Linked DNA regions of Homo sapiens. The protein of the gene in region 2 interacts with the protein of the main gene of each other region in a pairwise test. Each region holds a gene or a part of one and is shown on either strand. Other genes may lie near its edges. The genes, in order: OSBPL11, SNAP25, OSBPL10, WASHC3 and OSBPL5.

The links.
Region 1: the proteins of SNAP25 (region 2) and OSBPL11 interact in a protein complementation assay, tested with the Homo sapiens proteins (one study listed by BioGRID).
Region 3: the proteins of SNAP25 (region 2) and OSBPL10 interact in a protein complementation assay, tested with the Homo sapiens proteins (one study listed by BioGRID).
Region 4: the proteins of SNAP25 (region 2) and WASHC3 interact in a two-hybrid assay, tested with the Homo sapiens proteins (one large-scale study listed by BioGRID and IntAct).
Region 5: the proteins of SNAP25 (region 2) and OSBPL5 interact in a protein complementation assay, tested with the Homo sapiens proteins (one study listed by BioGRID).

What each region holds. Positions count from the first base shown.
Region 1 is NC_000003.12:125,532,072-125,537,951, forward strand, and holds part of OSBPL11 (oxysterol-binding protein-related protein 11), read right to left. Parts: intron 1-5,880. UniProt on the Homo sapiens protein: Plays a role in regulating ADIPOQ and FABP4 levels in differentiating adipocytes and is also involved in regulation of adipocyte triglyceride storage. Weakly binds 25-hydroxycholesterol. Interacts with OSBPL9 to function as lipid transfer proteins.
Region 2 is NC_000020.11:10,272,918-10,278,797, forward strand, and holds part of SNAP25 (synaptosomal-associated protein 25), read left to right. Parts: intron 1-2,511; 5' UTR 2,512-2,574; coding exon 2,575-2,646; intron 2,647-4,767; coding exon 4,768-4,809; intron 4,810-5,880.
Region 3 is NC_000003.12:31,973,672-31,979,551, reverse strand, and holds part of OSBPL10 (oxysterol-binding protein-related protein 10), read left to right. Parts: intron 1-5,880. UniProt on the Homo sapiens protein: Probable lipid transporter involved in lipid countertransport between the endoplasmic reticulum and the plasma membrane.
Region 4 is NC_000012.12:102,042,612-102,048,491, reverse strand, and holds part of WASHC3 (WASH complex subunit 3), read left to right. Parts: intron 1-2,372; coding exon 2,373-2,438; intron 2,439-4,279; coding exon 4,280-4,387; intron 4,388-5,880. UniProt on the Homo sapiens protein: Acts as a component of the WASH core complex that functions as a nucleation-promoting factor (NPF) at the surface of endosomes, where it recruits and activates the Arp2/3 complex to induce actin polymerization, playing a key role in the fission of tubules that serve as transport intermediates during endosome sorting.
Region 5 is NC_000011.10:3,161,293-3,167,715, forward strand, and holds the start of OSBPL5 (oxysterol-binding protein-related protein 5), read right to left. Parts: upstream 4,019-6,423; 5' UTR 3,924-4,018; intron 2,905-3,923; exon of another isoform or gene 2,648-2,904; intron 2,625-2,647; exon of another isoform or gene 1-2,624. UniProt on the Homo sapiens protein: Lipid transporter involved in lipid countertransport between the endoplasmic reticulum and the plasma membrane: specifically exchanges phosphatidylserine with phosphatidylinositol 4-phosphate (PI4P), delivering phosphatidylserine to the plasma membrane in exchange for PI4P, which is degraded by the SAC1/SACM1L phosphatase in the endoplasmic reticulum.

The DNA.
Region 1 (5,880 bases), on a different chromosome or scaffold from region 2:
AATCAATACCCTCAAAATTACAATAATTTTATAAAATAACGTTTCCTAAATCACATCTACAATGTCATGCTTATGAATTCCAAGAATAACGATACTGTGCTGCTGATGGTTATGTCCAGGATGCTGCTCCTTCTGCTTCTTTTTAAATTAAAAATAATTTGTATTTTTCCAGGTTATAAAAGCAGGATTTTTTGTTTTTAGAAAACTTAGAAATTAACGAGTAAAAAGAGAAGTAAATTTTCAAAGTTGAAATGTAAGCAAGACTAATTGTGCTTCTGGACATGATGAAATAATGGGGAACACATTTATTTTCCTGCCTTCATCAACCAGGAAACCAGGCAACATATAATACAATAGTGGTTTTCAGATACTGAGCAAAAGGCAGTGCAGGGCAGTGATCCTTGAGAAAGGAAACAAATGAGGGGAGTCCTATGAGTGCTCTAACTCGCTGTCCAGAGTGTTTCTAGGCCACGCACAGGGAGAGGGAAGCTTAACAAATCTCAAGCAAAAAAAAAAAAAAACAAAAAAAAACTGCCACAACACTTCTTTAGGGAAAGAACTGTTTGTTGAACAAATGGTGCTGGGACAACTGGATATACATGTGAAAAAAATGTAGTAAGTTAAACATAAAACTACCATAAACCCAGCAATTCCACTCCTGGGTATTTACCCAAGAAAAATGAAAATAAATGTCCATACAAAGACTTGTAGGAGAATGTTCACAGCAGTATTATGGATAGGCAAAATGTGATATATCCATACAGTGCAATACTATTCAGCAATAAAAAGCAATGAACCACTGATACATGCAATTAATACTTCATGGATGAACCTCAAAAACGTTATACTAAGGAAATAAGCCAGGCATAAGAGATCACACATTGTATGATTTATATGAAATATCCAGAAAAGGCAAATTTATAGAGACAGAAAGTTAGTGGTTCTCTGGGCTGGGGGTAATGGGGATTAACTGTAAATGAACAAGAGAGATCTTACGGTAGGATGAAAATATTCTAAAACTTATTTATGGTAATGACTGTACTACTCGAGAAAGTTACTAAACATCTGTTTTTTCTTTCTTTCTTCCTTTCTTTCCTCCCCCCTTCCTTCTCTTCCTCCCCTTCCCTCCCTCCCTTCTCTCTCCCTCCCTCCCTCTTTCTCTTCTGTTCTCGTCTCTTCTCTTTTTTCTTTTTTTGAGACAGGGTCTCACTGTCACCATCTCAGCTCACTGCAACCTCTGCCTCCCGGACTCAAGCAATTCTCCTGCCTCACTTTCTTGAGTAGCTGGGACTACAGGCGTGCACCACCATGCCCGGCTAATTTTTGTATTTTGAGTACAGACAGGGTTTCATCATGTTGGCCAGGCTGGTCTCGAACTCCTGACCTCAAATGACCCGCCCACCTCGGCCTCCCAAAGTGCTGGATAGTATGCCAAAGGTCTTATAATTTAAAGAATTAAGGCTACATATGTATCTTAATGGCTCCAAAAGGTTTCCTAACACATTTCTGAAAATCAAGTATCAAATATCCTTTTAAAAAAATATGATACATGAGATGGCTCAAAAATAAAAATGAATTTATAAGGAATTCTCCATAAATAACCAAAGACATTAAAACAAAAACAGAAACATCAAGACATAACAATCCTAAATATAAATGCCTGCCCTAATAACAGAACTTCTAATAAAATGAAGTAACAACTTGCAGAACTACAAAGTGAAATATTCAATTGTAATTGGTAATTTTAATAACCAATCTCAATAACTAAACTCAACTGATAGAATAAATACACAGAAAATCTGTAAGACTACAGAAGACTAGAAAAATACTGTCAACTCATTTGACCTGACGTTTATAGAACACACTCACCTCAGCCTCCTGAGTAGCTGGCATTACAGGCACATGCCATCACATCCAACTAATTTTTATATTTTTTGTGGAGACAGAGTTTTGCCATGTTACCCAGGCTGGTCTCAAACTCTTGGGCTTAATACACATTCGTGTCAAGGGCACATGAAACATTTACCAAGGCCAGGTGTGGTGGCTCATGAATAATTCTAGCACTTTGGGAGGCCGACGTGAGTGGATCACTTGAGGTCAGGAGTTTGAGACCAGCCTGGCCAACATGGTGAAACCCCATCTCTACTAAAAATATAAAAAAATTAGCTGGGTGTGGTGGCACACGCCTGTAGTCCCAGCTACTCGGGAGGCTGAGGCATGAGAATCGCTTGAACCAGGGAGGTGGAGGTTGCAGTGAGCCGAGACTGCATCACTGCACTCCAGCCTGGGCGACAGAGTAAGACACTACTTTGTCTTAAAAAAAAAAAAAGAAACATTTACCAAGACAGAACATATTCAGAATCATTAAACAAACCTAAATAAAGAATTAAAATCATACAAAGTATATTCTTTCACCAAAATGAAACTAAATTAGAAATAAATAATGGAAAGCTAGCTGGAAAATCTCTAAACATTTAGAAATCATCAACACATTTGTAAATAAGTTCATGAGTTAAAAAAAAAAAACCCACAAAGGAAATAAGAAAATATTTCGAAATGAAAACACATAAAAAGTCATCAGATAGAAATAAAGCAGTCCTCAGAGGAAAATTTACAGCATTAAACATTTAGGAAAAAAATATTGATGAGCTAAACCAGGGATCAAACTATGGCCCACAGCCCATTTTTGTAAATAATTTTTTATTGCAATTTAACAATGTCTCATCATTGACTTATTGTCTATGGATGTTTCATGCTATAAGGGCAGAGTTGAGTAGCTGTGGGAGAGGCTATTTGGTCCACTAAGGCTAAAATATTAATTGGCCTTTTACAGAAAAAGTTTGCTGACCCCTAACCTAAGCTTCCATTGTAAGAAATTAGAAAAAAAAAAAAAAAAAAAAAAAAAAGCAAATTATTTACAATGTAAGGAGAAAAAAAGAGATTTTATAAAAGAGCAAAATTCAATGAGAAAGAAAACAAACATAGATTAAATCAGTGAAGCCAAAATCTGGTTTTTTGTGTAAAATTAATAAACTTTTAGTCACACTGATGAGAAAAAAGATATTACAAATATAAGGAATAAGTATGGGGATATCACTATAGATCCTACACAGATAAAAAAATAAGGTAATATTAGGAACTATATGACAATAAATTTGACACATTAGCTGAAATGAACCAATTCCTTGAAAGACAAACTACCAAAGCTCACTGAAGAAACAGAAAACCTTAACAGCCCTATATATTAAACATACGTAATTTGTAATTCAAAACCTTCCCCTAAAGAAAAGAACAGAGCAATATCCCTCATGTATATAGAAACTATAAAATTCATTACAAAATTTTAGCAAATAAAATTCAGAAGCATCTTTTTTTTTTTTTTTTTTTTTTTTGAGACAGTCTGGCTCTGTCACCCAGGCTAGAGTGCAGTGGTTCAACGGCGGCTCACTGCAACCTCCACCTCCTGGGTTCAAGTGATTCTCATGCCTCAGCCTCCCGAGTAGCTGAGACTACAGGTGCACGCCACCACGCCAGGTGATTTTTGTATTTTTAGTAGAGATGCCTGGCTGATTTTTGTATTTTTAGTAGAGATGGGGTTTCACCATGTTGGCCAGGCTGGTCTTGAACTCCTGACCTCAAGTGACACACCCGCCTTGGCCTTCCAACATGCTGGGATTATAGGCGTGAGCCACCACACCGGCCCAGAAGCATCTCTTTATCTGCCCATACATTCAATCTGTGGTGATATATTGATTTAAAGTATATATAGGAAAAATCTGGGCCGGGCATGGTGGCTCAAGCCTGTAATTCCAGCACTTTGGGAGGCCGAGGTGGGCGGATCACCTGAGATCAGGAGTTCAAGACCAGCCTGACCAACATGGTGAAACCCCATCTCTATTAAAAATACAAAAAAATCAGTTGGGTGTGGTGGTGTGCACCTGTAATCCCAGCTACTTGGGAGGCTGAGGCATGAGAATCGCTTGAGCCCAGGAGGCAGAGGTTGCAGTGAGCCGAGATCATGCCACTGCACTCCAACTTAGGTGACAGAGTGAGTCCATCTCAAAAAAAAAAAAAAAATTCTGGCCTCACACAGATACAGTTTGAAAAAGAGAAGAAATATTTTTACAGATTTTTCAAATAATTCAATTCTTTCATACTGTTTCAAAACTCGACAACTGGTAATTTTAAAAAGGCCAGTTGCAATGTGGAAAATTTAAGAATGTCAATATTTTTTCAAATAACTTATATGGAAATCCACTGGTCTAATGTGCATCCTGAATGGATCATTTATCCATGCATGATTCTGTAATATCATGCATTAGTCATTTGAAAAATACTGGTTCATTGAGTTATGCAGATCTTCCAGATGTTGACATACTATACAATATTTTAAAAAATCACGTTCAATAATATAAGCACCAAGTTCACCAGAAAACTAATTGGGAAGTTTTCAAGTTCATGGTGGCAGATACAATTTTCTAAAATTCTAATTTTGCCTTGAAGCTCAAATTTTATTATTAGTAACATACCATCAATTGTTTTTCTTTAAGTATCACATTCATGTCTTTCATTTACAAGAAAAATGTCTACCTAACATTGAAATTAGAAGAACCATAGTTTGTCTATCAATCATTCTTTTAAGTAAACATGGTATTTCATGAACAAAGTGATTAATTCTGCTTGTAACTCAAAAAATTTTACAAGTGCTCTTCCTCCAGATAACTACTATATTTCTTCGGTAGCCAGCACAAATACTTATTTATATTCCCAATTTGTCATACAGAATACTAATAAGACATGTACTCGGCCAGGCACGGTGGCTCATGCCTGTAATCCCAGCACTTTGGGAGGCTGAGGTGGCAGGATCACTTGAGGTCAGAAGTTCACGACCAGCCTGGCCAACATGGTGAAACCCCGTCTCTACTACAAATACAAAAAATTAGCCAGGCGTGGTGGTCGATGCCTGCAGTCCCAGCTACTCAGGAGGCTGAGGCAGGAGGATCACTTGAACCTAGGAGGTGGAAGTTGCAGGGAGCCGAGATCGCCCGACCACACTCCAGCCTGGGTGACAGGGTGAGACCCTGTCTCAAAAAAAAAAAAAAAAAAAGACATGTACTCAGTAATCCAGATTTTAAAAAAACTAATAATTTGTATTGCTTTTTCAAGGACATCTTAAGAGAAAGGGGCATGCGAGTACATGGCAGTGAAGAATATAATGACTGCTTGTGACGTTTGGTGCCACTGCCTAGATTAGTCCTAAGGCCCACCAGTGCTACCCACAGCATTCCTTTTGCACCATCATAAGAGCCCACAGAGTGAAAAATGATAAATAATATCTCTGTATTGTTATAAACAAATTGTGAACTTGCAGATGCCCTGAAAAGGTCTCAAGGACCCAACAGGGGTCTGCAAAGCAAACTTTGAGACCCTCTCCTTAGGATAAATCCCTGTAAGAATTCTTTAAAAATTCATTATTGCTGTTATTTTTTGACCCACTCTGAATGTTTGATTGTGGACATTTAATCCCTTTTCACACCTAGTTAGAAATTGTTTGGTTCTATTTATGTGATCTTAATGTAAGATGTTTAGTGGTTCCCTGTATATTTTTTTTCTATTTTTAATTGATAGAAGGACATTTTATGTCCCTCATGACATAAAATTTAAACAGTACAAATAGGAATCTTGTAAAAATTAAGTCTCTTTCCTATTCCAGATCCCAGTACTCTTTTCCAGAAGCAACCACTGTCAACACATTTTGGAAGCTGTACCTTATTAACACGTATAGATCCACTTTATTTTTCAAGGTCTATGACACATACTGCCAAAATAACCTCTACAAAGATTGCACTGGTTTAACATCTAATCAGCAGCATGAAAATG
Region 2 (5,880 bases):
CTTTAGGATTCCTTCTAAGAACCCTAAAGAGTATGATTTCTCCTTTTTCACAAGAGCAATAAATTTGGAAAGTGATATTAATATGTACTAAAATTCCATCCTTGTTGAGAAAGCAATAGAATCGTGGACCTGGAGGGTGAGATGGCAGAGCCTCCTCCCCCAGGATCAGATCTAGGACCTGCCTCTGGGAACTTTTGTTCCCTTGCCTCCCAATGAGTATGTTCCTGATTTTTTTTTTCATACAGAATTTTCATTTTTATTTTTCCGAAAAGTGATTCTCATTCTCATGCAAATAATAATAATAATAAACATGGTAGTGCCCCAAGGCCCCAAATCTAATTTCCTCTCCCAGCTTCGGTTTTCAATAGAAAGACAAACAAAAATATGTTTTTTGGTTAGGAAATCATGCTCATATGCAATGTTTCTGTTTCATTTTAAGTTTCTTCAGACATTTACTAGTTAGTGTAACACAGGCTGCTATAACAAAACAACCCTCACATTTTCCATAGCATAATAGAAATATATTGTTTGCTCACGTAAGAGTTCAGGTGTTACTGGCCAGGAGTCATTTTTCTCCATGCAGGGATATGGAGGGCCCAAGTTCCTTCTGTCTCATGGTCTCATGGCTTAACCATCCTTTAAGACTGTATTTCTGGCAGAAGGAGAAACAGAGGGAGGAGAATACCTGCTTCTGAACTGCCTTAGACTGACAGGGACACACTTTGTTCTACTACCACTCATGGACTGTCTCTAGCCACAGAGCACCACTTCCTTGCAATGGGAATTAGAAATGTAATTCCTGGCTGCACAGCCATTTCCCAGAGATCATGCTCTACCATGCAACAGTGAGGTTAAAGTGCACAGTTGACCATCTCCGCTACAAGACAAGAGCCCATGCCTTCTTCAAATGTGCTACTCACAGAGAATTTTTCATTCTATCAGATACCTACCCCATCGGGCCCTTTGCCCCCTTCCCTTCGATGGCCTGGGGACATGGCTTCCTCAGAAAGGCCTGTTGCAAACCCATGGGCACCCATGATACCAGACATGTCCCCTAGTGTAATTATCATCATCCTGAATCATCTAATTCCCTCTTTTGCTTGCATCTCCCCAATTAGACTGAATTCTGTAAAGGCAGGGAATTTGCCTATCTTGTCCATCACTGTATCCCTAGTGCCTAACACTGCCTGGCATATTACAGGTGCTCAATAAATATTTGAGAAGGAAGGAGGAAGGAGGGCTCTCTCCGGAATAGACCCAGTCCTTGTACCTGTCATTTGTACCATGTGGGATTTCAAGAGAGTAGCCAAGAAATGGACTGGTCACCTTTCAGGACCAAGGACCCACCCTCTTTGGAGTGATAGCAGCTCACCCTCACACAAGCCCTTTTGGCAACCTCTGATGATGACTGAAATAGATGAAAGATTTTCTGCCTTTGGCTTCCACATGCTTCTAAACACAATGGAACACTATTCAACAACAAAAATTGAATGAACTATTAATACATGCTGCAACATAGATAAATCTCAAAATAATTATGCTAAGTGAAAGAAGGCAGACAAAAAGTAGTACACACTATGTGATTTTTATTTATATAAAATTATAGGAAATGCAAACTAATGTATAGTGACAGAAAGTAGATCAGGCTGGGTGCGGTGGCTCACGCCTGTAATCCCAGCACTTTGGGAGGCCAAGGCAGGCGGATCACAAGGTCAGGAGATCGAGACCATCCTGGCCAACACAGTGAAACCCCGTCTCTACTAAAAATACAAAAAATTAGCCAGGTGTGGTGGTAGGCACCTGTAGTCCCAGCTACTCGGGAGGCTGAGGCAGGAGAATGGCGTGAACCCGGGAGGCAGAGCTTGCAGTGAGCTGAGATCACGCCACTGCACTCCAGCCTGGGCGACAGAGCGAGACTCTGTCTCAAAAAAATAAAAAAAAGAAAGTAGATCAGCAGTTTTCTGGGCATAGACATGTGGGATAGGGCAGGGGCCAGTGGGTGGGTAGGAAATTTGGAGGAGTAATGGCTATGTTCATTGTTTTGATTGCAGTCATGGTTTCCTGGGTGTATACATATGTCAAAACTTCTCAAGTTGTACACTTCAAATATGTGGGGTGGACTGTATATCTGTTATACCTTAATAGAGCTATTTAAATAAATAAATAAATAAATAAATAAATAAATAAATAAATAAATGTGATGATAAAAGTACACTAACCCCAAACCACATCCCTCCAACCTCATCATTCCCAACCCTTGGGTAGTTTGTCTCTTTAAAAATATTTCATCGGTAGATAGGTGTCTATCTCCATGGCAGAATTGGCAAGTATGTATTTGTGGCATCCTTCGGAGAAACAGCACAATTCTGTTGACCCCTGTCTGAGTATGGCTTTCAGATCAGAAAACTGAGTCATGTGGACTGAGTATGGGCCATTTAGATTTTCTGGTCTTTGCACACACCTACATGAACATATATAAGCTCTCATATTTTCATATCTACTTCTTCCCAGGTCCAGAGCCAAACCCGTCACTGACCCCCCAGCCCAGGCGCCCAGCCACTCCCCACCGCTACCATGGCCGAAGACGCAGACATGCGCAATGAGCTGGAGGAGATGCAGCGAAGGGCTGACCAGTTGGCTGATGAGGTAAGGAGTGGAGACCTAGGAAGGGAGGCAAAAGATGAAGGCCTGAGTGGTTTGTCTTATTCAGGTTCAGGTAGGGAAAGCCTTTCTTTCAATGTCTCAATTTCTTTTAGAAAAAGTAATATGACTTTGATTTTCTGTACACCTAAGGCTTCTGTGGACCAGAATAAGTTGATTATAGAAGCTGCATACAAATTACTGTCTTGGCCCTAACTCTCAATTTCCAGAAACCTTGAGAAGTCAAGGTCCTCTAAGAAAAGAAAGCAATGTCTTTGGGTGCCTTAATTCAGTGCTATGCTGGAGAAGGCTCAGTTCCGAGAACAGATTGTTAACATTTTCAGGAACTTTGCAAGCTGGTTGCTAAATGCAGCCATTATTAAAACTGAATTACATAAACTGACAATTAGATAGATTCTATTAAAATCAAAAGTAATAAACACTCAAACTTCATCACTTCCTAATTATTTTGCTACATTTTACTATTATCCATGATCTTGAGATTCATCCATTTTATCTGTAGGGTGGAAATAAGGTATAATAATGTGTTACCATGTGTCTTTCCAACTTCATGATCAGTAATATGAAGTTGTAGCTTAAAATCAGGCAGAGCTGGGTACAGCGGCTCTCACCTGTGATCTCGGCTACTTGGGAGGCTGAGGCAGGAGGATCGCATAGGCCAAGAGTTCATGACCAGCCTGAGCAACATAGAGAGACTCCCATCTCTAAAAATATTTAAAAATTTAAAAATCAGACAGAGTAAGAGTATTTATCACCCAAGAATCTGCAAATACTGCAGATCAGGACTTGACTTATTGTTTTGCTGATTGTCTAGACTTTAAAAAGTAGAGAAAATATTAATAATGCAGATTAAAGTTAAAAGTATGTATGTCTGCAGCCATTATACTATGAATAACACAAAAAGAGGAAATCTTCCAGTATTTGAAAATTATGATTCTCTAAGGCAAAGAAATCCTTTTTGTCATTCACAAATGAGTACAATTCCAACACATGCCTTCATTGTTTAATTTTCTTCTTACTCATTAATATACATGAAAATATCCAACCAACATTCATGTCAGAACTACTCTGGTTCATCACATGGTTAGCTGTAGACACAAAAGTTCAGCAAAAATCAGTAAAAGTTTTCTGTGAGAATCAATTGGCTATGCGGAATTTACAATAAAGAGAGTATTGTATATTTTATTATTATTTATAAATTTTGTGCTATTCATCCTTTATATCAGTAAAATAATAAACTTGAATACATGTATGTATTTGTGTATTTTTCCCAGAGAGCCGGTAGTTAAACCTTTACCAGCAGACTGCTGCTTGCAGCCATTCTATTTCAAAAAGCAGCTGGCTGACAGCTCTTCCAGGGAAGTTAACATCCTTCAGGTTCCTGCAGAATCTTGTTCAAAATAAGTTTGTCAGTTAAAAGCAAAGCTTTGAGAAATCACACTGGTTGTTGGATTCTAGTCGTTTCAAAAGAACTGAGAAAAAAGTGACAACGCAGTGCCCGGGGGACCATTGCAGAGCTCAGCCTTTCCGTCTCGTTTTTTCTTATCTAAGGATGAAGATAATTATTATAGCTCTCTCCTATAGGCTGGTCATTTCAAACATGCTTGATTTTTTTCACCCTAAGGCAACAACTTAATTTGTATTGATAAGAACTTCCAATTGTGTTTCTAGGAGCTTTGTAAGAAACTTGATGTTATATTCATCTCGATTCATGAAAAATTATGTTTGTGTTTAAAATTTAATGTTCCTGGCCCAGGGAGGCCAAATTAGTCCTCTGAGTAATTGAGATAATTTTTCATGCATTCTGAGCATGCAAAATTATCTTCTCCAGATTACTTTGTCTTTGATATCAAGATCAGCTTCATATGGTTTTTATTTTCTGAAGATAAGCTGTAATGTAATTGCTTTAGGGAATCTGATCATGTAAAAAGCCTGATAGGAAAGAGTTTGAAAATGTAATGACATTTTTTGTTTCACTTGCCAACTGAAAAGAATATGTGACAGAGACCCTTTGTGTTTCTCAAGTAAATAAAGTATTTCTGATTTTCCAAGATCTCTGGATCCTGCACTCATAAAGTTTATGTTTGTTTGTTTTTTAAATCTTAGTCGCTGGAAAGCACCCGTCGTATGCTGCAACTGGTTGAAGAGGTAAGAAGTGACAGTATTTTAAGATAAAGGAACAAATCCCTTATGCTGATACATCCTTTCCTAGTTGCTATGATGTTTCCTTGGGCCATGATCCCCTAGATTCCAGTGTGGATGTAGCCTATCAGAAAGGCACAGAATGAGGGAGATGCTGTATTTAAGTTGCCAGATAGCCATGAAGACACCTTCACCCTCCTTCCCAGCCCAAGCCACCTCTGTAGTCTGGTCTGGGAAGCAGAGAATAATAGAATTTCCAAGTCTGTGCTCTCAAGAAATCACAGACGATTGTATCACTTTAAGCAAATTAGAGCAATTCTTAATATACAAAGGAATTATCTACATAAAACTTTATTTGTAATTATTTTTGTGCCTATAAATTACATCTAATCTTGAGATTCTGTTCTAACTTTAGCCACATATATGACTTTTAAAAATATGTACGCATATAGGTGTATCATTTTTAGAAATTGTTCTATTTAAAGTCAAGCACTAAAATTTATGAAAAAATAGGAAAGCCCTTTAACAAAGGGAAATATCAAGTCCAATAATATAAATACAGAAGCTTTTTTATATTCCTGCCTGGATTGAGCATCCATTTGCCAGGCAGGGTTAATGAATCCCAAACTATTTTTAAATGGGTAAAATGGGGCAAATAGCAATAATGGAATCAAAAGGGCACTTGCAATCATAAACCTCACTCATTCCAATTTGGTAGAGCAGCAGTCGGCCAGGCAAAATAAATGGATTAATTGAACTTGCCCAATGGGAGAGATGAAGTGGAAAAAGAATGGGTTGGACTATACTTATCTTAACCTAATAAGACAAGCCTAATAGTTTTTATTCAGCGAGATGCTGTTTTAGCTGTGCTTTGAACTGCTTATCAGTATATAAATTCATGTGTGATTATCGTTTTTAGAGATCTTGGGCTTTCTCTGGCAGAATGATTAAATGAGCCTACTCCCCTCATGCTATCATAAATTTCATATGCAACAACTTGAAAGGGAAGAAAAGATAAATTTTACAAAGGATAAAAGGAAAGGCAGCCGCCTCTCACACTCTAGGAGCCAATGTCCT
Region 3 (5,880 bases), on a different chromosome or scaffold from region 2:
AATTATACCCTGGAAAGTTGCTTATCTCTGCTGCATGGACTATATTACTTGGTTATCTCTTCCTGTAGATTGTTTGGAAATGTTCAGATTTGCTTCCATCTGAAACATATCAGCCAGTTATCTGCACGAAACTCAACTTGGAGGAAGAGGTCTTTTGAAGTATGGAAACTGAGTTGTTTCTATATTGATATTCTACATATAGGACTTTCTGAGTCACCTGGGCTTCCTGGGAGATGTGTTACTATGTTAGTGGAAGTTGCACTTAACTTTTGAATCCTTTTATTTCTCAAAATAGTCCTAGTGTCTGCTGTTGCCTCTCCCTTCCCCTTTCAATTCGTGAAAGCTGAAAAAGAATAGGTAGAATGCGTAGGTAGAGGGAGATATGAGATGACTAAATCTGATTTCAGTTCTTGGTAATTATGTCTCGTTAATGGCAACTCAAGGTGCCTTGTCAGTAACAGCATTTTGTTGGTGTGTTGAGCAATCACTTAATGCTTTTTCTTCAAGTAGATTATGAGGCCAGCAAAGCTTTTACCCTGGATTACAGTTATTTTATTATTTACTTGCTGGGGAACAATATTTTACCTTGCAGTCTGTATTAAAGGATTTGTTATTTGGAGTGGATTTAGGAGGCATTGGAGTAACATTCTTTTGCATTATTTTAAACCCATTGTGGTGTTTAGATTGGAGGCAAGGTTGAGAAGAAGCACATTTAATGCCAATAATAATACCTACGTGATAGCAGGCTACCTAGGTGAAATGTGGTATTAAGTACACTCCTGAGCATGCTTAAGTGATGTCTCATCTTTATTGAGTTTGTTTACTGCAATTTATAGCTGTCTGCCTATGTTTGTTCTTACCACAGTAGACTCACCGTTTTCCAAGTCTACCACTGACTCCATAAGCATCGTCTGTAATTGTTAACATCTCAGTGTCAGGGTTTCTATTTCCCACATTTTGTTCTTTGAACGATGGCTGAGGGTCCATTAGTGGTTTGGAGAAGATTACGATGACTCTGTGCTTGCAAAATTCTCCCTTCTCTAGGGGTCTTATGAAGGGACAGATGGATTAGTGAAAAGGAAGAGAGAAGAGGATAAAAATAGAAACTTTGAAAATGTATTCATTTGTTCAATTATCTATTCACAGACTGTTTTATTGAGCACCTACTATGTGGCAGGAACTGTTCTAGGAGCTGGAGCTACCACCCTTCCCTGGTCCAGGGAAATGCCTTAGTACAAATAGTTAGCCAACTGATTCCTGCTGCCTTTCTTTCTGGGCCTCATAGCATCTTCCTTTGGCAGTTCTTTTCAAAGTGCCCACAGTTAATGACAAATCTATAGCAACCAAGTTCTTGGTTCATCCTCTCAGGCTGCTGTGCAATTGTAGTGCTCTTCACCAGCTCCCAGGACTTAATACCAATCACCCACTAACAGTTTGTACCCTGGTGTCCTCTTGCATGTTCTCAAGTTGCTGTAAAACTTATATTTTAACACTTGGCATCATATTCTGCCTTTATTTGTAGCCTCATCCTCATGCCCTTAGGAAGGCAGTTTGGGCCAGAACACAAAATAAACGACATAAAGAGAGGTCACAGAGAAGAACACTGTATGATGGGAACGTGCTCAACTCAGGAGAGTAAGTTCAGGACATTTGGCTCACACTCACTGGATGAGAATGTGAAATACTTAGAGTATGGGGAAAACATGCATTAAGGGCTTTCTGTCATTCATTATTATAGATATTTAAAGAAAATATTTCAGGCATAATAACATTGTATAGATTTACAGGATGGCACTGAAGAGTAAATACATTGATACAAATGAACAACAATAAAAAATCCAGAAAGTGGCAAGTGCTATGAAGGTTAAAAAAAGGTGATGAGATAAAGCAAGTATTTGCAGGAATAATTTTAAGTGTGAGTCTAGTGTTTTTACTGCTATTCACATTGTCACTTAGAGTACTCTCTTATTACCCATCTTATCACTCATACAGAGTGAACCATGGGGAGAGTAAACCTCGAGAACTTGAGGAGGCAGATGACCTAGCACCTAGTTGGCCAGGATTAGAATTTCAGACTGGGTTCTGGTGGCCCAGAAGGATTTTAGGAAGGGAAGTGACACTTATTAGGTCACTTTGGCTGCTGTGTAGAGATGAGATTTTCAAGGGGCCAAAGCATGAAGCAGGGAGACCAGTTAGGAGCCCATCTGAGTGGTCCAGGAAAGAGATGCTGGCGGCCTGGGCTGGGGGTTGGCAGAGAACTGGAGAGAAGGGATAGATCTGGTGTGGAGAGGATGGAAATCGCTGATGAATTTGATGTGGAGGTGAGAGAGGGGCAAGAATAACTCTTGATTTGTGGGCCTGAGAGGCTGGGAGGTTGAGACGTCCTTTGTGGAGATGAGGATCACAGGAGGGGAATGTGTTTGTGGGGAGGGTGAGGCTTGGCCAAGAGTTCTGTTTGGACTGTGTTCAGTTTGAGGTGCTTACCCCTAGTAAGAAACTGGCTGTATGAACTTTCATTTGCCCTAAGTCAAACTTTACTCTCAAACTAAAATGGAGCTATTTTGGAGTTGCTCATAATATCAAGTATTTGAGGAAATAATTTCTAATTGGATCTAGAAATTGTTATTTAAATATCTAAGGGTTGCCATTGCCATTCACTTTTTCTTATTTGGAGAAAAGAAGACACTGCGAACGTGGAACCAACCTTCAATTCTTTTTTTGGTGATTGGCAGGGTTGTAAGAACTCAATAAAATGCTGAATGACAACAAATCTTGACTAGGATTAAGGAAGACAAGGCTGGGTGCATTGGCTCACATCTGTAATCCCAGCACTTTGGGAGGCCGAGGTGGGAGGATTGCTTGAGCCCAGGAGTTCCAGACCAGCGTGGGAACCATGGTGAAACCCTGTCTCCACAAAATAAAAATATAAAAATTAGCCAGTGGTGGTGGCTTAGGCCTGTAGTCACTGCTGCTCAGGGGTCTGAGTTGGGAGGATTGCTTGAGCACAAGAGGTCAAGGCTGCAGTGAGCTATGATCACACCACTGGACTCCAGCCTGAGCAACAGAGCAAGACTCTGTCTCTAAAGTAGACATTTATTTGGGGAGGAAGAGTAGTGTGAACTTTGGATTCAAATCTTGACACCAACACTTAGCACACATGTGACCGTGGGCTAGCTCTTTAATTGCACTGGGCTTCTGTTTTTCTCTTCTGCTAAATGTGGGAAATGATGTTACTCTTTTCATTAGTTCAATGTGAAGATTAAATGAGATTATTGGTGTATAAGGGACTGAGAATAGTACATAGCAAGATACCAAGAAGTGGTAGCTATTATTAGATCTTCAATTTGTCTGTTTTTAAGTAGGCACTTTCTGGTCCATAAAATTCTTGGTTTTTATTCTGAGTGCTGTGGTTACCCTGGGACCACATTAACATAATTATCATAGAGTTCTTTGGGGAGAAGATGATTACTTCATTTTGAAGGGATCCTTTTAAAACTTGGCACCAAACATTTACAGCTCCCCTTCCCAGCCTCTAAATCCTATCTTCCTTTCCTATTTTATTTCTCTCCATATACCTTGCTATTATCTGACATGCTTTATATTTTACTTTTTTTGGTCTCTCCACACTAGAGTATAAGCTCCCTGAGGACAGATAATTTTGTTTGTCTTTGTTGCTGCTGTTATCTCCAGTGTTGAGAACAGGGTCTGGTATACAGTAAGGGTAGAGTAAGTATTGTCAAATGGATAAAAAAATGAATAAATGTCAGAGAGGGAAACCAGGGCTTAGTTCTATTTGAGCCAGTGTTAGCTATTATTAGTATCAGAAGTCTTGGTTCTGTACCTGCTTGTAACCTTGTCCTTGTGTTGCTGTGTTTATCATCTGTCCTGCTCTCTGCAAACAGTCTTTGGTTCTGGATCAGGGAGTATGACTCTTCCTGTGACGTGCCCACCCTGATTTAGGGCCCACCACAACTCACCCATTGGGGGCCATTAGTGACCAAATATCCAGGGCTTGCTTTTGACTCTATCTGGATTAACAACATACGTTGAGTGTTTAGTGTTTAGCCCCCAGCATTTTGGTGCCACTTATCCCAAATTAAAGCATCACTGGGGTATATATGAATTTTTAAAGCCACCTTGAAGGAAAATAAGTGTTTTTTTGAGTATCCCAATAATTTTAGAGGGAATTGGTGATACCAGGGTTGAAAATCACTGCTCTGGGTTTTGTATTCTTGTCCGCGTGTACATAGGAAATATCTGCATATCTTCCTGTGTAGTCTGCCAGAGTGTTTTGAGGCCGTGTGCTAAAATCCTTTAGGGACACTAACTAGTTTCATTGATGGTAATAATAAAAGGGATGGTTGCCTAGGTTACAAAACACTGTATAATATTGTTTATTCACTTATGGTTCAAAATACGTATTGAGCACCTGCTTCGTATTAACTACTCCCTGCAGAATCTGCCCTCCCCCTCCTTTGAAAGTGTGTGTATATTTGAGGAGATTCACACCAAAATGGTTTTCTTTGGTTGGTGGGATTATGGGTGATTTCCATTATCTTCTCTTGTCTGTTTTCCCAAGGTGAATGTGTGTCTGTTTTGCAGTTTGAAAAAGTTGTTGAGGCAAAGAAAAGCTGCTCATGCCTTTTCACGTCATCTGTCTAACTGAGTTTTGCGAGTAAATTTCAAGTCTAATCTACATTCAGAAAAGTACACAAATCATATACATACACAGTTCAATGAATTTTCTTAAATGGAACACACCCAGATTAAGAAACAGCTGCCAAAACATTCCCTGTCCCCCACAGCCCCTTTCCTCATAGTATCTCCCCGCATACGGTAACTGCTATTCTGACCTCAACACCACTGAGTTGTTTGGTCTCCTTTTGAACTGTGTATTGTGTAATATGTGATCTGTGTGTCTGGCTTCTTTCTCTTAACGTTATGTTTGGGAGGCTTACGCATGTTTCTGTGTATAGTTGTGGTCTGTTTATTTTCATTGCTATTTGGTATTCCGTGGTATGAATATACTGAACACATTTGTCTATTGTAGGTTGGTATTTGAGTTCTTTTCAGTTTTTGACCCTATTCATAGGGTCACAATGCTGTGAACATTCTAGTACCTGTGTTTGGAGAACATAGGTATGCATTTCTGTGGATATACACCTAGGAGTGTTTGCTCATGTCCAGCTTATTAGATACTAGCAGAGAGTTTTCCACAGTGGTTGTATGCATTAATACTTCCACCAAAAGTGTGTAGAGAGAGTTCTGTGTGTACCACATTCTCATCCACACTTGATATTGTCTCTTGTTTTCATGTCATCCAATTTTAATTTGCCTTTCCCTGATGACTACTGAGGCTGAACATGTTTTCACGTATTAATCGGCCATTGGGATGTCATGTTTTGCAAGCTGCTCTTTAAGTCCTCTGCCCATTTATCTGTTGGGTGTCTGCCTTTTTCTTCTTGACTTTTACGAGATGTTTATATATTCTGGGTATGCGCCCTTTGCTGGATGCCTGTATACAGGTGCCTGGGCACTGCATATATAGAGACACGGTGTATTATGCAGGCATTATGTCCTGTGGATATACCACAGTTTGTTTATCCATTACCTGTAGGACAACATTTGGGCTGTTTCCAGTTTTTGACTATTACAGATAAAGCTGCTATTTGTGTGTAAGTCTTTGTGTGGTCACATGCTTTTATTTCTTTTGGGTAAATACCTAGCATTAGAATTGCTCGTGTATCCATCCTATGTAGAAAGTGCTAACCTGTTTTCCAAAGTGGCTGAACCATTTCACACTGCCACCAGCAGTGCATAAGTGAATAGATGGCTCCCCATCCTGGCCATCTTCATGTTGCTACCTGGAGAGCTTTTGGA
Region 4 (5,880 bases), on a different chromosome or scaffold from region 2:
CCAGGTTCAAGCGATTCTCCTGCCTCAGCCTCCTGAGTAGCTGGGACTGCAGACGCACACCACCACACTTGGCTAATTTTTTTTGTATTTTTAGTAGAGTTGGGGTTTCACCATGTTGACCATCCTGACCTCAGATGATACACCTGCCTCGGCCTCCCAAAGTGCTGGGATTACAGGCATGAGCCATTGTGCCCAGCCTATGGTGATTTTTTTTTTAACTATGTTTTTAAACAATGCTGAATTTAAGCTAGAAGTAGATAAAAATAAAGGTAGAATTTTTTCTCTCATCCTAGTTCATGTACTGTAGTTCAGAACCACTTTGTAAATGATCATCTCAGAATCAGAAGAGCAAAAGGCTTTTCCTCTTGGCACAGAATCATCTTAGTGAGAAACGAATTGATCATTTGTTAGCTTTGGATAACAAAAATTCTGTGCAATACCCAAGAATTTACCATTATGTTTTAACAGTGTAAAATTATCTCAAAAAAATCTCGTGAAGTGTATTGCCTCTGGAGTTGGAGGGTTTGAGTTCAGGATATTTTACTTGTATGAGACTCAATTTTCTCATCTTTAAAATTGGCATAATAGTTCCTACTTTATAGATTTGGTGTAAGATTTCAATTGATATGTTGCATATACACTGTACCATATGTAGCAAGGTAAATACTCAGATATTTACAGTATTGATGATTATTGCTTAAAAGTAAATATATAGGTATATTAAAACAGAAAAATTTTTAATTCCATTTTTTTGTTTCCTTTTGTGTTTCCTTCAATCAAACCAATATGTCCATTTTTAAATAAGTTGGAAATTCTCATTCACTTTACATATTAATTTGCTGTGGAATTTTTTCTCTAGTGAATTGAGACTGATTAGATTTGCCAAAATTAAATTTCTATGATTTTAAGGAATACACTTATAATTTGGAGAGGGATTCATTCATAATACATGTTATAAACCTGTATTGGTGTTTACCTAAAAGCCTTATGTGAATGAATTCTAGAAGTCAAGGGTAAACTTAGCTTTGATACCATGAAAACTAGATCCTAATACTTTATTTGTAGATTATGTCTTTGTCGATATCAAGATGCTAAACTAAAAATAAGTGATCTGTAAAGAAGCACTATCTGCTTTGTGGCCACTTTCAGTTTTTTGCCCCCTCTAATTGTGGGCAAAGTGACCATTTCACAGGATGGTAAAGTTCTACTTAATAGTCAGGATCTTAATAATATCCCAGAATACAATCAGGATGCTGTGTATCTGCCAGCTTGTAAACTGGGCAACTGCTCTTGGATTATGTGACTGAATATAATGTTTAAGATTAGGAGGTTTCAAGTAAATGTTCTTTACTTGAATGGTCATATTTTATGATGCTACCTTTCTTTGTATAGGTGTATATTTACACAGAGGTACATTGACAATTTAATTATACAGAGTAACAAGCATGATAAGCTCTTCTATCTGGTTTATCTTGCATTTTGATAGTAGATTTTAATACTCTAGTTTTTTCTCTTCTCTTTCCAAAATGAATTACTCATCTTCCAATTCCATTCCCCTTTATTTTTCAAACTACAGATGTTTAAATCTGGGACGAATTGTATATGCTGATGCATTTAAGTAATTTATAAAGGCAGACCTTGTTGCAGCGTGTCTTTGAATAATTTTTATTCTTTTATTTTCTATGAAAAAATTTCTTCATTCATCAACAAATAATTATTAAGCTCCTATTAAGTGTCAGGGTACTATTCTGGGCACTAAAGGTACAGTAGTAAACAAAAGGCTCTGTCCTGGTTTGTTTATATTCTGGTCTCAACAATTGTTTACTGCTCTGATAATGAGTTTGCAGAAAATGTCAACTTTGTTATAAGTGAATATAATTTTATAAAATAACTGAGAAGCGACTGGGTGCGGTGGCTCACGCCTGTAATCACAGCACTTTGGGAGGCCAAGCAGGCAGATCACGAGGTCAAGAGATCAAGACCATCCTGACCAACATGGTGAAACACTATCTCTACTAAAAATGCAAAAATTAGCTGGGCGTGGTGGCACGTGCCTGTAGTCCCAGCACTCGGGAGGCTGAGGCAGGAGAATCACTTGAACCCAGGGGGCAGGGGTTGCAGGGAGCCGAGATCGCACCACTGCGCTCCAGCCTGGCGACAGAGCAAGACTCCGTCCCAAAAAAAAAAGAAACTGAGAAGCATTATAATACACGTAATAGAAGAGTTCTCATTCCTACTCATGTAAATAAGACAGTACTGTATTAGAATATGACAAATATTTAATGGTTTTTAATATTTTCATATCTGCCCTTAGTTATTGTTAACAGTTTATTTTAATTAAAGTCTTTATGTCTCTAATTTTTCTTTTACAGAAACTGGCAGACCTTTCACTTCGTATCCAACAAATTGAAACAACTCTCAATATTTTAGATGCAAAGGTTGGTATTTCTCAATAATTTGTAGTATAAACTTTGCTGTGCATATACCAGCTTTCTTAATCATACTTAATTTTCATTGCATTTGGGAGTGATTCCATTTAACTTCTGTATCTGTGAAGTGATACTGGTTGTGTTTTTAATTTTACTGCAGTTGCAAAGAAAATGGTGTTCATTATGAACCATTAATTCAAATGTACACATGGTTTGCGATTTCTTTCATTGTGCTAGGCAAACGCATAATGCGAGTAACATGTTAACAAGCTGAGCTGTTATCTAGTTCACTTCATTTGATAGAAAATTCCAGATTTATTTTACTAGTTATTATTTGATAATACAATACTAATATAAATCTTTAGATGTCTCAGAGCAAATTTTAGAGACAATATCAGCTGTTTCTATTTGCAGATACCTTAAATGCTAATGAGGAATACCAGTTTTGATGTCAGAAATTGCAAATAATAACTAAGAAAAATAGAAGACTGTTTTAGATTGCAAGCTTAAAGATTTTGATAACAGTGATGTCTTTGGTTTCATTTTTAATATTTTTTTACATGTGTTTTTTCTGTTTATAAAGTTATGGAGACACTAGTGTATTTTCATGACTAACTTTCCTGAAGTTAATATTTTCTTTGTCCATTTACCAAAATAAAACTAAGAAATATTCTGTAAATATTTATGAGGAAGAAAAAAATGATATCCCTTTTTAATATGACCAGAATGTCTAGTTTGTACTTTCTACGTCTCTTTATGGACTTCAGCAACTGTGTTTCTCTTAGAACATTTCTCTAGTTTGGAAACCCGGTCTTGAACATGTTCAAGATAGTCCTCTAGCAGCCATACCCACTTGAAACTATTTGGGCCATAGCCACTGTGCTAACTATGGTTATCAGTCAACAGTTCTCAATGAGTATTGCTGCTTGAGATCTTATTACCATTGGTTTTTTTTTTAATTATTATTCTTTATAATGAATATGTGTCTTATTTTAATGTGAATATGTGTCTTATTTTAATGTTTAAGGAATTCCTGGGAGTTAGAGTCCAAGGTCGCACATTAAATGACCATATGGACAAGTTAACCTTAGTTATTTCCATGGCCATAGAGTCATCCCCAAAGTTAGCCAAACATCGACAAATGCGTGTCATTGATATCAGGATGAACTCAGAAAAGAAGGTTTGTATGGGTCTCGCAGATCTAACCTGAAATGCTTAACTATTTCATAGTGAAAGCTAAACCATTTCAGGTTGAAATACCAACAATATGCCCATTTTTTTGCATAGAAGAAACATATTTTAATAACATTCAGTGGTGAATGTTCAAAGAAAGAAAAAAGAATGAGCTGTGTCACACATTAAAGTGTAAAGACAAGAGTTTTGTCATATCCTAGATAATTGAAACTCAAAATTTGCACAAAGCCCTTTTTTTTCGAAGTATTATCAATAGAAATATTTTTACAACAACTTTTCTAGGTACATGTTCTTATCTCCACTTTACAGGTGAGATAATTGAGACACAGGGAGTTTTACACAAGATCACACAGCTTGTGAGTGGTAGAGCTAAAAGTTAAACCTGACAGTCTGACTTCAAAGACCAGGCTCTCAGTCCTTACACTAGGATTGTCTATATTTTGAAAATGATGGTTATGTAAACTAAATTAGATTTTTGAGAAGTTCTTCAAAAGAATTTGTGACCGTCTTTCACTTTTAGTTTATGACATGGAAAATTAAAGACAAGATATTGTGAACCTATTTGTATAGCCTTAAAACTTAAGACAGCTATTAAAAATAGTGTTTATTTATGCAAGTACTATCTTCATATTCCAATACTAATTTTCTTTTCTCAGTTGTCATCTATCCCAGGCCTAGATGATGTCACAGTTGAAGTATCTCCTTTAAATGTCACCAGTGTCACAAATGGAGCACATCCTGAAGCCACTTCAGAGCAACCACAGGTAAGTGAGTTCTAAGAAACGAGCAGATGTTCTTGGTTGAAACTGATAGTGTTAAGCAGCAGGTTGGAAGGAAGAAAAATAAACATGTAAAACTTCTAATAGTAAAATTTTAAAACCTTAACATAGAAAATGAAGTTTGGGAAAAACAAATTAGCTGTGTTATTTTGAAGGGCTTCCTGAAGTTAATACTTTCTTTGCCTGTAAAAAAGAAAATCAGTCTATATAGGACTAGGAAAAAGCTTCAAATAATTATTTTCTTCAAAATAATTAGAAATTTTTCTAGGTTCTTAGAAGAAATGTACTTTTAAAATATTTTATTGTAAAATTTTTAAACATACACAAAAATAGACCTGGATTCACCAGTTTTCACAATTGCTTCATCTATTTTTTTGGTCACTTGCTGAAATTAATTCCAGACATCTTGTCATCTCACCCTGCATAAATTTTTGAGCATCTCTGAAAAGTTTTGACATTTTCTTTTGTAACATTTGCTTATATAAATGCCTTTATCATATACAGTGTAATTAACAATAATTGGCCAGGTGCAGTCACTCAGGCCTGTAATCCCAACACTTTGGGAGGCTGAGGCAGGTGGATTGCTTGAGCTCAGGAGTTCGAGATCAGCCTGGGCAACATGGTAAAACCCTATCTCCACTAAAAATACAAAAATTAGCCAGGTGTGGTGGCACGCACCTGTGGTCTCACTACTCGGGAGGCTGAGGTGGGAGGATCACTTGAGCCCACGAGGCAGAGGTTGCAGTGAACCGAGATTACACTACTGCACTCCAGCCTAGGTGACAGCGCAAGTCCCTGCCTCAAAAATAAAAAATAAATAAATAAATAAAACATTCTCTGGTATTGTCTAACCCCTTGTTACTCAAGTACACGCCATGGACCAACCACATGGGCATCACCTGGCAGCTTGTTAGAATGAAGCATCTCAGGCTCCACCCCAAAACTGCTGATGAGAATCTACATTTTAACAAGACCCCTAGGTGATCTGTAGGCTCTTAAAATTTGAGAGCTACTGATCTTAGAAATACCAGTGTGTTTTTGAAGATGATTCGTTTGAATCAGCATCCCAGTAAAAGCTATACTTTACATTTGGCTCTTAGATCTTAACATTTACTTATGCTTCTGTATGAATTTAAATTTTCTATTACTTTTTATTTCAAAAAATAAAAATTCTTTGTTGTTTGAGAACAATCTCTAGTGTATCTCAGCGAGGTATTAAAATCTAAAACAAAGTAATCATCAAAATGGTGGCCTACCAAAGTAATAATAATAAACAAATAAAACAAACAGATTTATAAATGGAATTCTGCCTTTGTACCTGGAGGCACTTTTCACAGGATATTTTTTAGATCACGATGATGTTGACAGTGATGATAACAGCTAACACTTCAAGAGTGCTTTCTGTGTACCAAGGCATGCACGTTTCTAAGTGCCTTTCATAAACTAATTTAATCTTTACAACAGCCCTATAATGTAAG
Region 5 (6,423 bases), on a different chromosome or scaffold from region 2:
AGGTGAGACACCCTAAGGGCTCCATTCCTAAATCAGAGATGATGGGACTCTGGGAAGAGTCACGCCCTCTTGTCCTTCCCATCCTAGAGCATGGAGGAAATGAGCTGGTCACGTCCCACACCAGCCGATGCTGGTGAAACCAGGACATGGTGGGTGGGACTTGCTAGATGGGGGCAGCCAGTCTCAATCTACTGACCTCCCTGGGATGAGACAGTATGACGGCTTTCCACATGTGCCTCACTTAACCGTAGAACACCTACTGTGTGCCAGCCCCTGGGAAGAGAGCCCGGAGCAGACTTGCAGGCAACCGTGCATGGGGACAGACACCGCGCACCAGCGGCACCCACCAGGGACAGATGCCACGCACCAGCGGCGCCCACCATGAACCTGGCTTGGCCCAATCGCTTTCTCCATAGGAAGCCATTCAATTAAACAAACATGACCATTTCAGTATAAATAAAGAGAAAACAAAACACAGAGCTGAGAGCTGCTTTGGAATGGGTAACGGGCCAGGAACAGAGACTCTCTCAGAGAGGCAGCATCTGAGCTGGGACCTGAATTAGATGGAGCCCACCAAATGCAGATCCAAGGAGGGGCCGAAAGCAGAGGCACAGGCAGTGCAAAGGCCCTGGAGTAAGAAGCCGGGGCTGACGCCAGACCCCTGTGAGCAAGGAGGGGAGAGGGAGGGGAGGGGAGGGGGAGAGGAGAACAAGGGAAGGGAGACAGAGTGGAGGGGCATCTAGGGCCTGTGGGGTCTGGAAAGGGGTCAGGACTTACTGAGACCCATGGCAAATCTCAAAGGGCTCTAAGTGGTCAAATTACATGAAGTGGTTTATCTTTTTAAACACCATGCTGGCTGCTGGCTGGAGAAGGGCTAGGAAGGCCACGAAAGGGGAGCCTACTAGGTAGCTGATGTGGAGCTCCAGGCAAGAGCTGGTAGGGCCAGGAGGGGAGTGGAGGCCAGCCCTGGAGGGAGTAGCCGGATGTGAGGTGGGCTGGGAGGCCGAGCAAAGCATTTGCTCTCAGCCTGGGTGGCTCTGAGATTTGCAACAAAGGCCCTCTAGGAATTCTGGATCCCTCTAAGCCAGCCAAGAAGGCTCATGTCCCACCCCCTCCCCATCTCCCACCTCAAGCCCTGGTCCTGAGGACACAGCTGGTGCCCACTCCGCTTAGTGTAGATGCCAGCACAAGGCAATCTCACATCCTCGTGGACATGATCCCAGAGGCCCTGGCTCAGAACAACTGTGATGCTAAGAGAACAACGCGGTCCTTAGTCCAAGTCCTTTGTACTCGACCGCCAACCCTACCACTCTCCGGAGCAGCTTCACTATCTGCCCATACATCTCCACGGGAAAGGTTACCCAGCCGTGGCCAAGACCCAGCCACCAAGGCCCCAAAACCTTTAAAAATCTTGACCAGCCCAGGAGCCCCATCCTCAGGCTGTCAGTTGCCTCCTCAAGCTGCAGGCTCGGTAAGTCATCAAGCAAAGCTGGCATCGAGAACAATATTCTTTTCCTTTGTGCCGGTCACAAGCAGCATGAGGACATCCAGGGCAGCATGCCTGTCCCTGTCGGGAGGCCAGTGGCCCTCACTTGTACCCCCCAACATCTACCCCCCAGCACACTGGTGCACTCCCTGGGCTCCCCTGCCAACCCTGCAAGTGGTGGGCACTTCTACCCACCTGGCCCTTGGACTCCACAAGGGGAGCTGCACCTAACGGCTCCCTCCCCGACAGCTCCCTTCCTGTCAAAATGACCGGGATCCTTTTGGCACTGTGCAACCCTGGGCCTCGGCCCCTCTACAACCCCCTGTCCCGGAGGTCAGAGCTTCCAGCTCCCCAGGCCTCTCCGGGAGAACCCTGAGCTGGGTCCACAACATTTCTCAGCTGCGGTCACAGGCTCAGATTCACCTGTCCCTTGAACAATAAATGGGAATGGGGGCGGGGGGCACCTTCTGTCATCTTGGGTAAGTTTTCCACCTGCACACTGTGCCTGTATGTGTGCAAACGTGTGCAGGCTTAACCACAGAATCAGCAGAGAGCACCAGTCCCCAAAACACAGCTGGCAGAGACACACACAGCCCTTCCACCCGCCGGCTTGTCACAGAGTGTTTCTCCCTCCCCCAAGCGTTACATGTCAGATTACTATCAGCGCTCAGAGTGAGGCCAGGATCTCAGGAGAGAAACTGATACCAGGCATTCTCAGCATAGTAAATACAATCCTGGGTAGGGGTTGGGTGGGGGGGGCGGTCTTGCGTTGGTATTCTGTAAAGAGCTGAAAGCAGTCCTTTGAAGAACATGGCCTATTCATGGCCCAATCTGGACCCAGAAAGGAGCCTCCACTGGACATGCAGGATGGCTGCCCGGGGTTCGACATCTGCAGGGCAGCCTCTCTGAGACCAGGCCCAGGACTGCAGGTCAGAGGCTCCTCATCCGGCCTATCTGCTGTGTCACCTTTCTTAAACACAGCCTGGCAAGACAGACACACGCGGTGCCTGCCTCCTGGCACCCCAGGCCAGCCCCACACGCGTGCAGGCAGACAATAGGATCTGCAGTTCTGGAGCCTGAGACCAGAAGGGAGCAGCTGGGCACATGATGCCACCCCAGGTTGCCACAAACCTGCCCGATGCCTGCAAAGCCCCCACTCACCTGGCAGGTTCAAGGAACAGCAAGGCCCTGTGTACCAAGGAGGTGGGATAAAAACGTGCAGAGGGGCCTTACTCCTGGGGTTGGGGAGCAGAGTTTCTGTTCAGTCTGGGATCTGGATCAGCCCTGGTGCAGGCAGACCCAAGAGCATCTATCTAGGATCCCAAAGGCTGGCCCACTTCTCCAGGCTTTGGGAGGCTGTATCAGGTGGGGTGGGACCCTTACAGAAGTCTTCCTGTAAAAGGCACCTTGAAGAGACTGGGGCAGACACACAGAGGGGAGCAAGTTGCGAAACGGCAAGAGAGGAAATCCACCCAGCCGCTTCGGCGGGGCAGACCCGCTCAGCCCAAGGATGAGGGAGGGGCTGGGCTCAGCCCAGGGACGAGGGAGGGGCAGGTAAGCCCACCCTGTGACCCCTCCATACCCCCAGGAGTCACCCCAAACCCTAACTCCAGTTGGCTTCTGACAGGAGGCAGCCCAGCGGTCTGGGTGGGGGTTGGGGGCGGTGCCTGGGAAGCCCAGGACGGGCCTGTTGCCCGGGGGGCTGCAGACTCCAGCCTCCTTCCTGCCTGCCCCACCCTCCTGCACCCCGCTCCCCGGGAGGAATCTTCAAGTGCACAAGACCCTCTTGAGGACTCAGGCACCTCAACAATCCCTAAGGCTCCACATCTTCAGGGGGTCAGTGCCCCAGAGATGGGGGCTGTGGGCAAGGTCCTTCCCTAGCCTGTAATCCAGGCAGCCCCCTGACTCTGCGGACTCAGACACAGCAGTCCTCCCAAGCCCGCAGCTGGGACGCCAGACTCAGATCCCAGACCCCCTGCAGACCCATCAAGACCTGGCTCCTTGGAGCCCGCGTCGGCCGAGCTGGGGGGACAGACCCCCTGATTGGCCAGGGTTTGTGGTGGTCAGACCCAGCCACCTTCCCTGGCGGTCCCGGCTCCTTTAAGCCCCACCAAGTGGGGAGCCGAGCTGGGCGCGCCGCTTCCCACTCGCGGGCCCCACCCGCCCCAACCCGCCAGGCGCCGACCCGTCCTGGCCCGGGGCGCCCCCAGGCTCCCGCGCTCCCCAGCTCCCCAGCGCGCGACCGGCCCCGCGGCGTGGTTCCCCGCACTGGCTACTGCCAGGGTCCGCGGGGCTGCGGCGCGAGCTCCTGGATCCCTTCGGCCGGCCCCCCGCGGCCCTCGGTTCGCTCCGGCCCTGCCCGGCGGGGCCCTCCGGATCCTTCCCAGCCCGCCATCCCCCCGCCGCCCTGCCGCCCCCCGGGCCGCCGCGCTCCTACCTCCTACCGTGCCGCGAGCTCGGTGCTCCGGGCCGGCCGGGCGCGCGGGGGCTCCACTGGCGGCGCGGGCCTGGCTGCAGGAAATGCCAGCAGATGGTCCCCCCGCGCGAGGCGGAGCGAGGGCGCGGCGGAGGGAGGAGGCCCAGGGAGCCCGGAGGCGGGAGGAGGAGGCGCGGCGGCCGCAAAACCCGGGCCGAATCGCCGCGCGGAGCGGGCGCCCAGGGGCTGCCCCCCACCGGCTGCCGCTTCTCCTCATCCCCCAACCCCCCGCGCGCGCTCCGGGGCTCACACCCACCCGGGCGGCCAGAGGTCGGGACACTCCGCTGAAAATGGCCAGGAGGCTTGGCGGGGTGGGCAGCGGTGAGTGGGGTCAGCTTCGTGGGGTTCTCCAACTTAGGGGTGCAGGCCCCCAGCCCACCCTAGCCAGGGTGCGAGGCGCCTCCTCTCCCTTCCTGAACCCAGGAAACTGTCGCCGTTTCTCCCCGTCTCAGGAGCCATCAGAACACAAGAGGAGCCCCAGACATCTGAGCCCGTTGTCCCTGCCCCTTATGTGCTAAGAAGGACCCTCAGTCACACTCTAACTGTACGTCTTTCTCAGGACCCTTTTGACAAGAACCTCCCCTCATGTGCATTTCTTCCTGTGTTTTCTCCTCACCTTCTTCTACCCCCCAGAGACCTTTTTAGACCCCTCAGTTCTCTTGTATATAAAAGACATTCTAATTCCCCTAAACAGCATCCCCTTGGGAGCTGAGAAGTCCTCCCCTGGCCCCTGGCTCCCTGCCTGTAGACCCTAAATTGGGTGTGGGCCCAGGGCTGGCCCCAGGGCGTTTGCATCCCTAGTGTCCAAGCCTGAGGTGCACTGCAGGTCCTTCCTATGGTATGTCCCCAAATGACCAGAAAAACTGGGAGCTGGGCTCGGGCATCCCCAGATGTAGGTAGACCCCAAGAGGGCGTGGAGTCTTTTCCACACAGAACCTTAACAGGGACAGAACTGACCCTCCGCAGAGAGCCCTGGGCTCCTCCCCAGGCAGAACTGCCACTGACACGTGTGTTTCTACGGTTTCACGCTGCAGTTGCATTCGGGAGGCCGCAAGCCTGGCTATCATGGGCGTCTGCAAGACCTCCCAGCAGGGCTGCGGAGGGCGAGCGGCCCAGGAAGGCTCCTTCCAGCACCTGAAGGGGGAACGGCACAGCATGCAGGTGCTCTGCCCACAACAAGCCAGACCCCTTCCCGTCTCAGCCCTGGCCTTGCCCACCCCGTTAGACAAGTTGGTGGGTATCCTCCTGGGGATAGCAGCACCAGCCGCTTGTGTGCGGATCACAGGAACCCACGGCTTACGGAGGCGAGTGGGCTGATCGGACTTGCCCTAAGCTTACCCCCAGGGCTAGCATTGCCATTCCATAGTCACCTTGTGAGGCCTTGGGATGCAGAACTGCTCAGTCAAGATGCTCAGGGCCATGGTGGGACCCTGCTCCGCGTGGCCTGTGGCAGGCGGCCTCTGCCTCTGCAGGAGAGGGTCTGTGCAGCTGGGATCCACATACAACTGCTGGGTCTGCTCTTTGAAGACTCCGCCCAAAGCTGAGGTGCTGCTGCCTGGTAACTTGCTGGTTGCTGGAGCCAATCCAAAGGGAATTAGGGAAGAAAACAAAGCCCCTATCCCTAGGGCGGAGGTCTCAGGGGCGGCAGTAGGGAAGGTTGCCAGTTGCTTGATGCTGGCTGTCCAGGGCCTGGGTTTCATGAAATGACACTGCTGAGGGCAGAGGTCAAAAGTCAAAGAGGCACCTGAGGGTGGGGGAAGGGGCCATAGATGACAGCAGGGTGGGGCTGGGGTGGAGCAGGACGAGGGTTGAGCCTCTCACTGGGTAGTGTCTGACAGCCAGATGGCCATGCAAGAAATGAAGAACACGCCACCTGCCAGGCTCAGTGACAGGTGTCAGTTGTCTGCCCCACTTCCCAGCAGGCTCTGCATTTTTCCAGAAAGCCCCATTTCCAGCCTCTTGCCTGGTTTTGGAGAGGCAGTGAGCCGAAGAGGTTGCCCCCAGCAAGAGGTAGGTCCGAATCCTGCTGCTGCCAGAAAGAAGCTCTGTCACCAGGCAGTGGCTTGTTCCTCCTGGGACCCCGCTTCCTCTCCTGTCAGATGGACACAGCATCTGTGCCTGGTGGCCAACGCAGGAAATGAAGGCGTCAGAGGTCTCAGAGATGGGCAGAGCCAGGTGCCAATGGCACCAGCTTTAGGGGGGCACGCCCAGTAGGCCCCACCATCCAGGAGCCCTTGAGCAGGTTTGTGCAACTGGCCGTGCCTCAGTTTCCTCATCTATAAATGGCGATGACCAGAGCAGTTTCCGCTGCATGAGCTGCCATAAGTCCCCAGTGGGCCAACAGACTTTGCAAGCGCTGGCTGTTGGTGGGCACTGGGGACCATGAGTGGACTATGGGAAGGAACGGCTTGCAGCGCCCAGCTGGTTAGTTTGGAATTTATGGTAATTCAGAAAAATATGT